4 linked regions of the Homo sapiens genome follow. The protein of the gene in region 1 interacts with the protein of each later gene in a biochemical or structural test. Each region holds a gene or a part of one and is shown on either strand. Other genes may lie near its edges.

Region 1 (3,500 bases):
AATTTATGTCTTTCATCTCATAATTGAACTGCAAAACCTTTCTGTTTTTAATTTATCATTTTATTCCCTAAGTCTAGCATTGGTTTTGGCACATTTTTGACCCTTAGTAAATACTTGTTGAAGTAACTCGACCTCTCACAACTTCATTTATTAAAGTACAATACACCCATTTATTGTACTTGATACTTGTTTAAAATTTGTTAAAATACAATACCCCCATTTATTGTACTTGATATTTGGTATTCATTTTCTGGACTAACTTTCCTAAAGGAGGAAGTTCTCTAATGTGATTCCTCCTGCTGAAGACTATCGATTCCCTATTTATTCAATCCAGATTCCGTTTGATGTTATACGTGAAAAGTCCATAAACTGTTTCTGTAAAGGGCCAGACGGTAAATATTTTTGGCTTTGTGGGCCATGTGCAGTCTCTGTCACATTCTTTCCCAGGCTGGAGGGGCAGTGGCGCAATCTTAGCTCACTTCAACGTCTGCCTCATGGGTTCAAGCCATTCTCCTGTCTCAACCTCCTGAGTTGCTGGGATTACAGGCACGCCCCACCACTCTTGGCTAATTTTTGTGTTTTTAGTAGAAGCAGGGTTTTACCATGTTGGCTAGGCTGGTCTCAAACTCCTGACCTCAGGTTATCCGCCTGCCTCAACCTCCCAAAGTGCTAGGATTACAGGCATGAGCCACAACACTGGCGTTTTAAGTGCCTTTAGTTTTAACAGTTCAGTCTTTACAGTGCTATTTACTGAAGTTATTTATTAAATATGCCTAAAATAGTTTTAAAAAACGTAAAAAACCATTCCTAGCTCAAGGCCATACAGAAACAGAATGAGGACCATAGCTTGCCAACCCTTCCTAAGTAATCAATTCCCCAGGTGTATCAATTATTTTATTTTCATGTTATCTTCTCTGGTCAGATAGCCGAGCATTGTCTACCTTCTGCATTAGTTGAAACTTGTAAAATTTATATTGTAATAATTACTTATAAAATGCTTTAAAGCAGAAACAACTTAATGTTTTCATAGCCCAGAGCACATGTGAGGAGAGGCAGACCATATTTTGCAGCAGCACTGTGCCAAGGGGCTGTTTTCATTAAAGAGGGTTAATGACATTAAGATGAGGTTCTCACTTAGGTAAGTTAATTTTCTGTTTATTATTTTATAATATTCTTAGGGCATTGTTTTAAGATTTTATCGTCTTGAGTATCTTTAAGCTTTAACAACTCATTTTTGATGTTTGACATGTATGCTAATTTAAAAGTATTGGTAAAGTCAGCTAAATGCATTCACACATCTAAAAAGGACTATTTTCTCTGCTTGAATGCTTATTAGAACTACTTGGAGCCCTTATTCCTCCCCCACCCCACCCCATGTTTTAAAAGTTATACAAATCATCGTTAGAAAATTAAAGATACATCAGTCTAAATATGTAGGTCTTGCTTTAGTATCAGGTTCGTCATTTCAAGCCATTCAGCCTTATTAGTGTACAAAGCACATTTAGTTACTTGGAAAGCAGGCATTCTGATTTATTGATTGTGGGGGGCTATCTTCCCTCCCTTTGTCCCTCTTTTAAGAAATTGAAAACATTTAAAATGTAATTAAGAACTTTAATCATTTGTTTTTAAACTTTTAGGCTAGTGATACAGAGCGAGATGGACTAGCCCCAGAAAAGACATCACCAGATAGAGATAAGAAAAAAGAGCAGTCAGAAGTATCTGTTTCTCCTAGAGCTTCAAAACATCATTATTCAAGATCACGATCAAGGTCAAGAGAAAGAAAACGAAAGTCAGGTATGAATTCTTAAAGGTGGTTACAACTCTCAGCATTTGTATAAGATATGTAGACCTGTTGTATAAGAAGACACATACATTTAGTTTGTTGGCTGGGCATGGTGGCTCAAGCCTGTAATGCCAGCACTTTGGGAGGCCAAGGCAGGCAGATCACCTGAGCCAGGACCAAAAATACAAAAATTGACACACTCTCAGCCCAATGCAACCTCCATCTGCTGGGTTCAGGCAGTTCTTCTGCCTCAGCCTCCTGAGTAGCTGGGATTATAGGCGTGCGCCACCACGCCTAGCTTATTTTTGTATTTTTAGTAGAGACTGGGTTTCACCATGTTGGAACATATCAAATATAATTCAACCTGTTTATTTTCTTTAGTTTTTATTTTTCTTAATGGCTTACCTCTCTCTATTAAACCCCCTTATGAATTTGCTGTAGACTAGGAAACTAGATGGGCTGGTCAGAATATATGTAAAATACTGAAAGTCTATGACCGTTTAAAAGATGTATCTAGGCTGCTTTATGTCCTGGTTTGCTCAGATTGCTTGATTTGTTTCACATGTGTGTTGTATTAATGTAGAATAATCCCACCCGTGCCATGAAAAAATTAGTCATTGGAAGAAGACTAATGGGAGTCATTTTTCTCCAGCATTAAGAGTTTTTTAAGATGAAATGTTTCTCCAACTTTGTTTATGGTGATTATTTTTTTTGTGTATTCACAGATAATGAAGGAAGAAAACACAGGAGCCGGAGCAGAAGCAAAGAGGTAATTAACACTTTGTAGTGAATAGGTACTTTAAAATACTTATAAAGTGTCTGGTAGAAAGATTTGTATGAATATAAGACGTTGTCAAGGTAAGTACAAAACTTGAAATTTAAAAGGTTTATTGGGTTATAAAATAAGCATGATTTTGATTCATCATTTTTGAAGAAGATGTTTATGTGAAAAGTACCTTCAAAACTTTAATTTTATTATATTGTGAAAATATTCACAATAAAAATTTCATATGAAGAATATGATTGGTTTTTTTAGGCCTGTCACACAGAGCTTCCATTAATCTGAGGTCCCGAGTCTCCTGGTGCCTGACAGTTGCTCAGGATTTTTAAACAGCAATCATCTTTACATAGCAATACCCTAGATATCTGTGCGCTGCTTTTTCCTTATGAACGATAACAGGAGTTCTCTTTTCTTTTGCAAACTAGTTCAGTTTCCCTAATAGTAGTATTGAATTTTGAAATAAAGGTTTGAGTGAGGGACAGCTGAAAAGGTGGCGGTGACACCAAAACTTGAGGAAAAAGAAAGGCAGCAGCTGTATTGCAAAGGAGTTACTTGTTCACCCACCTGAGAAGACAAAGAATGAGCCAATAAGGAAGTGTAGAAGTAGTAGCCAGAAAGGGAGAAGAGTCTTGTGGGGGCTGGGTAAGGGACTCCTAAAACAAGAGTGGGCAGGGACTTCACCTCTTCCCGTAATGGAAGCTCTGTTAAATTTTTAATTTAGGAGAGTTTTTGTGAAAATGACTATTTTGTTTAGCTCACATGATAACATTTCTATAATAAATCATACTCAGCGTGCTTATGCGCGAAGAGACTGAACTGAAGACGCTGCAGACTCAGATAGCAAAATAATAAGCCTACTTCATGATAAGGTAACTATTAGTCATTCAAACTCCTATTTCCCTTAAATATATCTTAAATCAGTTAAGGGTTTTAATG
Region 2 (3,500 bases), on another chromosome or scaffold:
GATGACATGCAAATGTATTATATACCTCAAACAGCATTACTATTAGCACAATTAATTGGCTTTAAAACTACCATTGAACAGTGACATATTTGGGGATTTCAGTCAGTAAAACAAATCGATTGTTTCTTATGTCACACTATATAATCTATGGTGTCTTTACCTTTCATCAAAAGTTGTTTTTTTATCAAGAACTTGACAGTGGGAGCCAGGCACGGTGGCTCACACCTGTAATCCTAGCACTTTGGGAGGGCTGATTGCTTGAGTCCAGGAGTTCAAGACCACCCTGGGCTTTCCACCATGGAAACCCTGTCTCTACAAAAAAATACAAAAAAATTAACAGGACATGGTGGCGTGCACCTGTAGTACCAGCTACTCGGGAGGCTGAGATGGGAGAGTCACTTGAGCCTGGAAGGCAGAGGTTGCAGTGAGCTGAGATTGCACCACTGCACTCCAGCCTGGGTGACAGAGCAAGACCCTGACTCAAAAAGCAAATAAATAAAAAAATCAAAAGAGACAATTAAAACTTATAATAAAAAAGAACTTGGCAGTGTAAGTCCTTCTTAGCCAACTAGAAAATTAATTTCTTTTTTTATGACTAATTTATTACCTGATTCAACCTTTAATTTTTTACTAAAAAAAGCTAACCAGTAATATTACATTGATACTTTTAACCTATCTTGATTGATATTAATTACCTTTTTTAATGTGTTTGTTTTGCTTATCTAGAAAAACACACCTTGACTTTAGTCAGATACATCACTGTCTGTTAAAGGAAACCAAGCGTGAAGTGGAAGTCTAACACATGAGGATACAGAATTGATTCAAAATGGGAACAACAAGTGATGAGATGGTGTCTGTGGAACAGACCTCCTCCTCTTCTCTAAACCCCCTGTGTTTTGAATGTGGCCAACAGCACTGGACAAGAGAAAACCATTTGTACAATTACCAGAATGAAGTGGATGATGACCTAGTCTGCCATATTTGCCTTCAACCTCTGCTGCAGCCACTAGACACACCCTGTGGACATACATTCTGCTACAAGTGCCTCAGAAACTTTTTACAAGAGAAAGATTTCTGTCCGTTGGACCGGAAAAGACTTCATTTTAAGTTGTGCAAGAAGTCTAGTATTCTAGTTCATAAACTCCTAGACAAATTATTAGTTTTATGTCCATTTTCTTCAGTGTGCAAAGATGTAATGCAACGTTGTGATCTGGAGGCACATCTCAAAAACAGGTAAGCAAAAAATATAAAAGAAGTAACTCCAGATTTTGGAAAAAGGTGGTTCAAATGAACATAAAAACTTGATTAAAACAAAACAAACCAGAGCACTAGTAAGTAAATGGGTGAATCAAGTACAGAAGAGATACAATAAATAAGTTGTATGGAACAGTATTTAACATTATTTATCAAAAACATGAATACAAAAACTACAGTGAGGAAGTACTGTTTTATACCTGTTAATATTTCTGCTGCTGTAATATGAAACTGATATATTCAAATAGATGACAGGATATTATGATAGATTCTTTCTATAAAGCAGTTTGGCAGTTTGTTTTTAAAAACTATATGAATGTAAATCTCCTTTTATCTAGTTTATTATCCTAAGGAAATAATCTAAAAGCAGGAAAAATTGTATGTAAATATGTTCAGTGCAACATTGTGCATAGTTTGGTAAATTGGAATCAGTTATTTAAAAGTAGGGAAGGGTTAAAAAATACTATGCACATAAACTCAGTGGGATATTATGCAGCCAATAAAAACGATAATTTTGTTGCAATATGGAAATAAATACATTATTTTATTTGCTAAGATCTTGTAAAGATTCTGGGTTCAGGGACTAGACTGAACAAGAATTAGGAGTTGGAAAACTAAATATTTAGTGGGGATTTCTGTTCTCATAAAAGCTTTTTAAAAGGTTAAGTAATTTATTTAGCTGATGAGTTTTATAATTTGATTTTGCTAAAAGACTTGATCTTTAACTTAGGAAGAGTTACAGTATACGTCATTTGTGTAGAATCACATAAAATGGCAGAAATAAATACTGGTTTCTAATTTCAAGTTAAGCCAGTTTTACAGTATAAATCTGCAGTAATCTCGATTGCTGTGAAAAACAATGCATACTACATCATACTGGACTTAGATGTAAGAGTGTAAGTCTGATATAGAATGGCTTGCTATTATACTCACACATAAAATCATAGACTTGAAGGAGATTATCTAATCCCCCTCATTTTATGAATAAGGAGACTGAGTCACAAAAATTTAGTTAATGCTGTAGTTAGACTCAAGCTTTACTGTTCTTGTTTACTATTCTAATAAACCATGTTGACTCTATCGTAGGTCAAGTCATGTTCTCTGCTGCTATGTAGCAAAAGTTTCATTCATGTGCACATGAAATACACATTCATTTTGTATCAATATATTGTTGATATTTATTTCTAAACATCAGAGTTAAGACATGAGAAACAATGAAAAAAACAAAGATGTTATTAAAATGTTGGAAACATTTAGATTTATAGAATGCTTAACTCTAAACTGTGTTGTCTAGAACTAGGAGGTAAGATAGAGTAGGATAGACAGACTTTTGAAAATGCGTGTAATAATGTAGCATTGCATTTTTTTATATCTTCTGTAACCAGCAAGCATAGAATCTGAACATGATGGCAGAGGCCTCCTGGAAACTGACACTGGTCTTTTGAATATACTAGTCTGAGTCAGGACTAGTTATGGCTGAAGAATATTTCAGGCTGCTTCTTTCAGTAGAACTGTTCTTTTCAGTGTATAGGCTTCTTTTCTAAACATCAGTTATGAGATGTTAGAGGAACTGAATGAAATGTCAGTTCAGTTATTTATGATTTTGAGAGCTGAAAGATAACAGTTTCACAGATTTTCAGGAATATTCCTTTAACATGCATTCAAGAATTTAATTTGCAGTTGAACTATTACTAGTGTTTCTTATCAAACCATTTATAATGAGAATGTAAAAAACCTTGGTAATTGCAAACTGCCTTTTCATTTACATGTTGGTAAAGGCTTATCCAGTTGAAGGTTTCATTTTCCAGCTGTGCTTATTAGTATTGAAGTAACCAATTTTATCATTTCTAAAGTATCTTAGGCCTGTAACATGAAAGATACAGTGAAAAGATGGATGATTGGAAAAGGTGGTGATTTGCCTGATACAGACAGCTAAGAGTGATTACTGAGTATATAAATGTAAAAAAATTATAAAATGTAATATGATTTTTATATGCCATTTGAACAGATAGTGATGAACAGCCTGACCTTTCTCTGTTCTCTTAAATAAGAACATTGAAATTCAGGTAGAAATGTATATTATACAACATTCAACCCTAAATAATATAGTTCATTTGTTTATTCAGCAAATATTGATTATCTGCTATGTGCCAGATACTTTTCTAGGTGTTAGGTAGTCTCTGCAAGTTAGAATCTAATGCCGGGTTGTAGATTCCTTTAGAAACAGAACCATGTCTTTATAGTCT
Region 3 (3,500 bases), on another chromosome or scaffold:
TTTTCTACAAGGACCAACTGTCATTTACCCTTAGGGTAGGAGCACTAAGTATGCATTTCTTGACATTCTCATTCGAGTCATTAGAGGCAGCATCAATCCAAGGACTCCGACTGCATTAATTGGGTAGAAGCAGTTGGGATATTTTGTACTCAAAACTCTCTTCTCACCCTGTTTGTTTCCCAGCATGCAGGCTTTCTGAGCTGATCAAGGTTAACAAGGCAGCTTTCAGAGAGATTAGTGCTTGAACACATATCAAGCCTTTCATACTACCAGCTAAGCAACCGGTTGTCCCCACTCCCAGCATCAAGTCTTGCTCGAAGTAACCAGATTTAGGCAGTCAGATCTTCAAAGGGCGCACGTAACCACATAGAAGGGTAGAACTACAGAGTGCTGTTATTCATTCTTTTGCATTTTACATGTTAGCGTTTCTCTGTATACTAACTGAGTGTGCCCCTGACCATGGGTATTGATTATTTTTTCTCTGTACAGACGGTCTGTCTGATAAGAGCTCTCACTCTGGCCAAGGAGCTCTGAATTGTGAGTCTGCCCCTCAGGGGAATTCGGAGCTAGAGGACATGGAAAATAAAGCCAGGAAAGTCAAAAAAACGAAAGAGAAGGAGAAGAAAAAGGAAAAGGGCAAATTGAAAGTCAAGGAGAAAAAGCGCAAAGAGGAGAATGAAGATCCAGAAAGGAAAATAAAGAAGAAGGGCTTCGGCGCCATGCTGAGGTATGGGCCTGCTTTGAAGGCAAAGTTGGTTCTCATTTTGTCTCTCCTGGTAAAATCACTCCTTTGTCTGTACTCAGAAAAAAGCGCACGCTTTTCCTCGTCTTCAGCCAAATGCATACGGCTCTCAATTCTGTGCTCGTTCTCTTTCTGCAGAGGCAGAGGAGCTTTTTGGGGAAAGTTACAGTGATGACAGGACACTGTCTTAAGTTTGTTGTCAAAGAAAGGTCAACACTATGCCAGGCACGGTGGCTCATGCCTGTAATCTCAGTACTTTGGGAGGCTGGGAGGATTGCTTGAGCCCAAGAGTTCAAGACCAGCCTGGGCAAGGTAGGGAGACCCTATTCTTTTTTTCTTTTTTCTTTTCTTTTTTTTTTTTTTTTTTTTTTTGAGACAGTCGCGCTTTGTCGCCCAGGCTGGAGTGCAGTGGCGTGATCTCGGCTCACTGCAACCTCCGCCTCCTGGGTTCAAGCGATTCTTCTGCCTTAGCCTCCCTAGTAGCTGAGACTATAGGCATGCACCACAACGCCCAGCTCATTTTTGTATTTTTAGTAGAGTGGAGTTTCGCCATGTGGGCCAGGAGTCTTGAACTCCTGACCTCAAGTGATCTGCCTTGTCTGCCTTGGCCTCCCAAAGTGCTGGGGTTTCAGGCAGGAGACCCTATTTCTAAGAAAAAAAAAATTAGCCAGGCACAGTGGTGCATACCTGTAATCCCAAGTACTCAGGAGGCTGAGGCCAGAGCATGGCTTGATCCCAGTAGTTCAAGGCTGCAGTGAGCTATGATTACACCATAAAAGAAAGGCCAATACTTAGTAGAGGCATGGACAATGCCTGCAGTCCTTTGTACCAAAGTGTTATGAAAATAAATACTTCCTCTGACACCACAGGGAAAGTGGGAAGTGGGGAAGCCCTATGTGTTACCTCTGGAATACCTCTTTTGAAGCAGGGGAGTCAGGGTAGATGAACCTCATCCCTCTGTGACTCTAGGTGTGCAGTGGCCGGGCCTCTGGGCACATCACTTGTCACCTCCAGAGGCACTGTGGTACAGGGGAGATGTCACTGGGTCTGGGCTCTGATGCCCAAGTCTGGATCCATGACTCCCCACACATGAGCAATGGGGCTTCACACACATTGCTTAGCTTCCCTGAGCCTTACTTTCCTTACTTTTAAAATGAGGCCAGCATACTTGCTCTACTGACCCAGCACAGTTGTGAGATATGATTTCATATGCTATACATTCATTGACTAGACGGGGCTCAACATGGCACAGTCAGAAAACAGCTTTGTTTCTTCTCTCCCCTTCAAGTATAAACTGTTGAGGCTGCCTCTTCCACACCCTGACATCTCAGCTTTCTGGCTGATAGCTTTCTGGTCACTTTTGGGTAAAAAAAAAAGCAACTTGTTTGTCGGGGGCTAAAATATGCAATCCAATATAAATGAAAGCTTTCTTCCTTTCTGCCTGTTGGACCTGAACCACAAGGAGCATCCTATGGTATGGTGGGAGGCAGGATTCCACCTTCTCCTATTTCTCAGTCTTTGGAACCAGGAGACAAAGACAAGATTCAATAGGATAGGATTTTACTTAACTGGCATTATCTGGTATAATCTGGCCATCAAGGAATCTTTGTGGCTACTTTTGTGGATTTTTTAGAGTGCTCCTTACTATACCAGTCACTAATGTAGGTGATTTTCCCACTGACCTATTTCCCTAAGCCTCTGACCTCAGACATATACCCCTGAGTCTCCTTACCCCGGCTGGTAGACTTCTTGGACAGTGCCAGTTTGAGACAGCTCTAGCTTAACTTACAGCCACAGCATCTACCTGGCTTATTAGAGTTCCTGATCTCCCACCCTCCAAATGATGCAAGTACAGCTTGTTCCCACTGTACCGCTCCTCCTCACCCCACCATAGAGATGTTCCAACCAGCCTTGCATCTTCAGACTTCTCCAGCACATCCCACACCAGCTCTGGGCCTCCTCACTCCAGAAGCACACATCAGACTCTCCCAAGAATGCTGTCATGCATGGGGAAGGGAGGAGGCAGTCAATTTTTGCAAGTCACAAAATAAACAGGTAGGAAGTGGGGTGACAATCTCCTATTATACAATTACCTCCAAATTCCCTAAGGGGTTTACTTGTAGCCCCCTCACTTATTTTGTTGGGTGTTACAGGCAGAAGTACCCCTTTCTATTACTGTCTTTACTCCTATAATTTCTTCTCAAATCAATTGATCACTATACTTCTGTGGGCTGAAGGTGAATGATGGGAGATGATGGTTTAGGGGCCAGTTTGGCCACCTCTTATGAAACCCTTAGGAGATACCTCATTTAAGAATGCTGCGTGTATTTATTACCAATTGTTCTCATTTTGTGATCATCAGCTGAAATTTCTACATAGAAAAGAAAGTTCCATCATTCCATATATAAGTGACATTTAGGGAATACAAATAATCCTCTTAGCAGTGAGCCTTCCCGTTACATTTCCAGTGCTCATGAAATGCTAAGCAAGGTTCCTCATGCTCAAAATCTTGGGAGCGATGTTGCCCCTGGATGTGTTATGACAAGACTTGCTGCGGTCCTGCTATCACCTGGGGTGAGGTTACCCCAGCAGGCCTGATGTCATAATAGCTATCTGAATATTAAAAAACAAAATTTTGGCCAGGCATAGTGGCCCAAGCCTGTAATCCCAGCACTTTGGGAGGCCAAGACGGGCGGATCACCTGAGGTCAGGAGTTCGAGACCAGCTTGACTAACATGGAGAAACCCCTTCTCTACTA
Region 4 (2,170 bases), on another chromosome or scaffold:
CTTCATTCCTGTTCTATCCACTCTTATTGGCAGAGGAAAGATGAACTGGCTGATGACTCTTTAGTGTCTCACTGTATCACCAGATACTCTACAGCAAATGGAGAACCCTGGCCATGGTTCCTTCCTGGTCCTCACGTTTGTGATGGGTTGACCTTGAGGCTGGTCTCCCAGAAACATTCTGTAAAGCATCCTTCAAAGAAGTCCTGGGGAGCTTTACGGACCATCCCAGAGCCCCTGGCCCCACCGGGTGCCACTCTCTGCAGCAGCAGAAGTCCCTTTCCCCCCAGGGCACCTGGGCAGCCAGCGGCCTCCCTTCCTCAGGGCTCCTTTGTAACACAGTGAAACTGAGAGTGCCACTGCTCGTTCCTGTCAAGCACTGAGCTTCCCTGATTCTAAGCAGAAAACTCAGAAGATGCAGAGATCTCGGGGAATTGATCACAGAACTCTCTGGTTGAAGTCTCTTGTCCCTAATCTTGTTATAGTCACTTTGCTCCCTCCTTAGAATCCCTCCATTCTCTCTATAAATACATGCTACCCACCATTTGCTCACTGAGTTCCTATTTCCATAGACACAACATAAATATCTCGGATGCAGAGAACAGGGACTATATTAATTACAAAATATAATAGTTTCTCTTCCCCTGTCTCTACTGAGGTCATGAATGAAACAAAACAAAAGCAAAGCCAAATCACACCTCACATGAACACAAAATGCTCTTTGGACCAAGTGAAAACTGGCTCAGAATTATAATATTACTAAAACATCTACACTGAACTGAGACGGAAGCATAAATATGAGGCACCTGATGAAAACACGGAACAATTCCACACCAGCCAAAAATGCTCTCAGGCCCACAAGGCAGCAAGAGGGTGTTTATGGACCACATCTGGGGATTCTGAGGCATAACTTGAGGTTGCTATTGTCTCCTTAATTTTGTGGTTTATGTACTATTCTGGCCTTTCCAATATCACATCCGCCTAGTGGCCCTGAGCAGAGAAGAAAGTTGGTCTTGCCTTGGGCCAGAAAACAAGACGCAATTGCACCTGCAGCTTGCCTTCTTGGGAACAGTCCCTCCTTCCCAGACTCCTGGGATGTGTGTTCGGCAGGGAGGGGAGTCCAGGAGGAGGATGCTTTAAGCCAAAGTGGTGCTGGAGGGGCTGGGCCTCAGCGCAGAGAGGGCAGGTCTCTCAGGATGAGGCTGAGCAGCCCCCGCCTGCCTGGCCACCTGCCAGGGAAGGGGCCTTCCAGAGAGGTGGGTTTCCAGGGGATCTGTGTGCCTAATCTTCAGCTTGTCTCACTGGTGGTGGGAGCAGGGAAGGGTGATATGCAAATGGGACTGTGTGTGTGTGTGTGTGTGTGAGAGAGAGAGAAGCAGACAGTACCTGCCTGTGTTTATCTAATGGTTGATAACTTGAGGACAACCTGGTAAAGCTTCAGATGCCCCATGAATTGCCAAGCTCTCTGTGACACTATGGTGTCCTTGCCCAAGGCAGTTATTTCCCCTTTTATCCTGGGGTGAGAAGGCTCGTATTAGAAAACACACATACGTTGAAATTAGAACTAGCAATAGAAGAGGTTTAAGGTTGGCTCAGAGATTCTGGGAAGAAATAATGTATGGTGCCCCAACTACATGGCAGGCAGTGCATAACCTTAATGACGTGGGCTGGCCCTGGGTACTACCACATTCCCACAGATAAACTCAGAGAGCAGGGATCAGCAACTGGGTTTTAGGCACTGCTGAATCAGCTGCTTTGCTGCCCCGCGAGCTCCTTTTAAGAAGTCTGCACCTCCTGGGAAGGGAGGATTCTCCCTCAAGCAGTGACAGCCCACCCCCTGGACACACCCAGAAAGCCCTCCAGGATGGTCCTGGGTCAGTACCAGGTGGGTGCTGGCTGCTCTCCATCCTCAAGGGAGTGCATACGAAACTTCCCTGGTATTGAAAAAAAAAAAAAAAAAAAAGCAAATCGGAGAGAGTAAAGAGGTCCTTGTGGATTCTTCTCTTCCTGTGTAAAACCAAATGCTGGGCGCGAGAGGGGAAAGTCTCAGTGGACACAGGGATGCAGCACGAGAAACACAACCACGAAGAGGAGAGTCCTCCATGCATGCCACCGCGTGTGGCCGCGGTCAGATGTAAACAGGCTGCTCCTGGGCCGTCAGCAGCCTGTACAT

What was found. Proteins that work in one complex are often made in the same cells at the same time.
Region 2: the proteins of RSRC2 (region 1) and LNX2 interact in a test that uses a peptide from one of them, tested with the Homo sapiens proteins (one large-scale study listed by IntAct).
Region 3: the proteins of RSRC2 (region 1) and PARD3B interact in a test that uses a peptide from one of them, tested with the Homo sapiens proteins (one large-scale study listed by IntAct).
Region 4: the proteins of RSRC2 (region 1) and APBA1 interact in a test that uses a peptide from one of them, tested with the Homo sapiens proteins (one large-scale study listed by IntAct).

The regions. Positions count from the first base shown.
Region 1 is NC_000012.12:122,520,437-122,523,936, reverse strand, and holds part of RSRC2 (arginine/serine-rich coiled-coil protein 2), read left to right. Parts: intron 1-1,637; coding exon 1,638-1,794; intron 1,795-2,504; exon of another isoform or gene 2,505-2,508; coding exon 2,509-2,552; intron 2,553-3,355; exon of another isoform or gene 3,356-3,425; coding exon of another isoform or gene 3,426-3,433; intron 3,434-3,500.
Region 2 is NC_000013.11:27,579,030-27,582,529, reverse strand, and holds part of LNX2 (ligand of Numb protein X 2), read left to right. Parts: intron 1-726; 5' UTR 727-826; coding exon 827-1,233; intron 1,234-3,500.
Region 3 is NC_000002.12:205,300,975-205,304,474, forward strand, and holds part of PARD3B (partitioning defective 3 homolog B), read left to right. Parts: intron 1-489; coding exon 490-727; intron 728-3,500. UniProt on the Homo sapiens protein: Putative adapter protein involved in asymmetrical cell division and cell polarization processes. May play a role in the formation of epithelial tight junctions.
Region 4 is NC_000009.12:69,429,202-69,431,371, forward strand, and holds part of APBA1 (amyloid-beta A4 precursor protein-binding family A member 1), read right to left. Parts: coding exon 2,126-2,170; 3' UTR 1-2,125. UniProt on the Homo sapiens protein: Putative function in synaptic vesicle exocytosis by binding to Munc18-1, an essential component of the synaptic vesicle exocytotic machinery. May modulate processing of the amyloid-beta precursor protein (APP) and hence formation of APP-beta.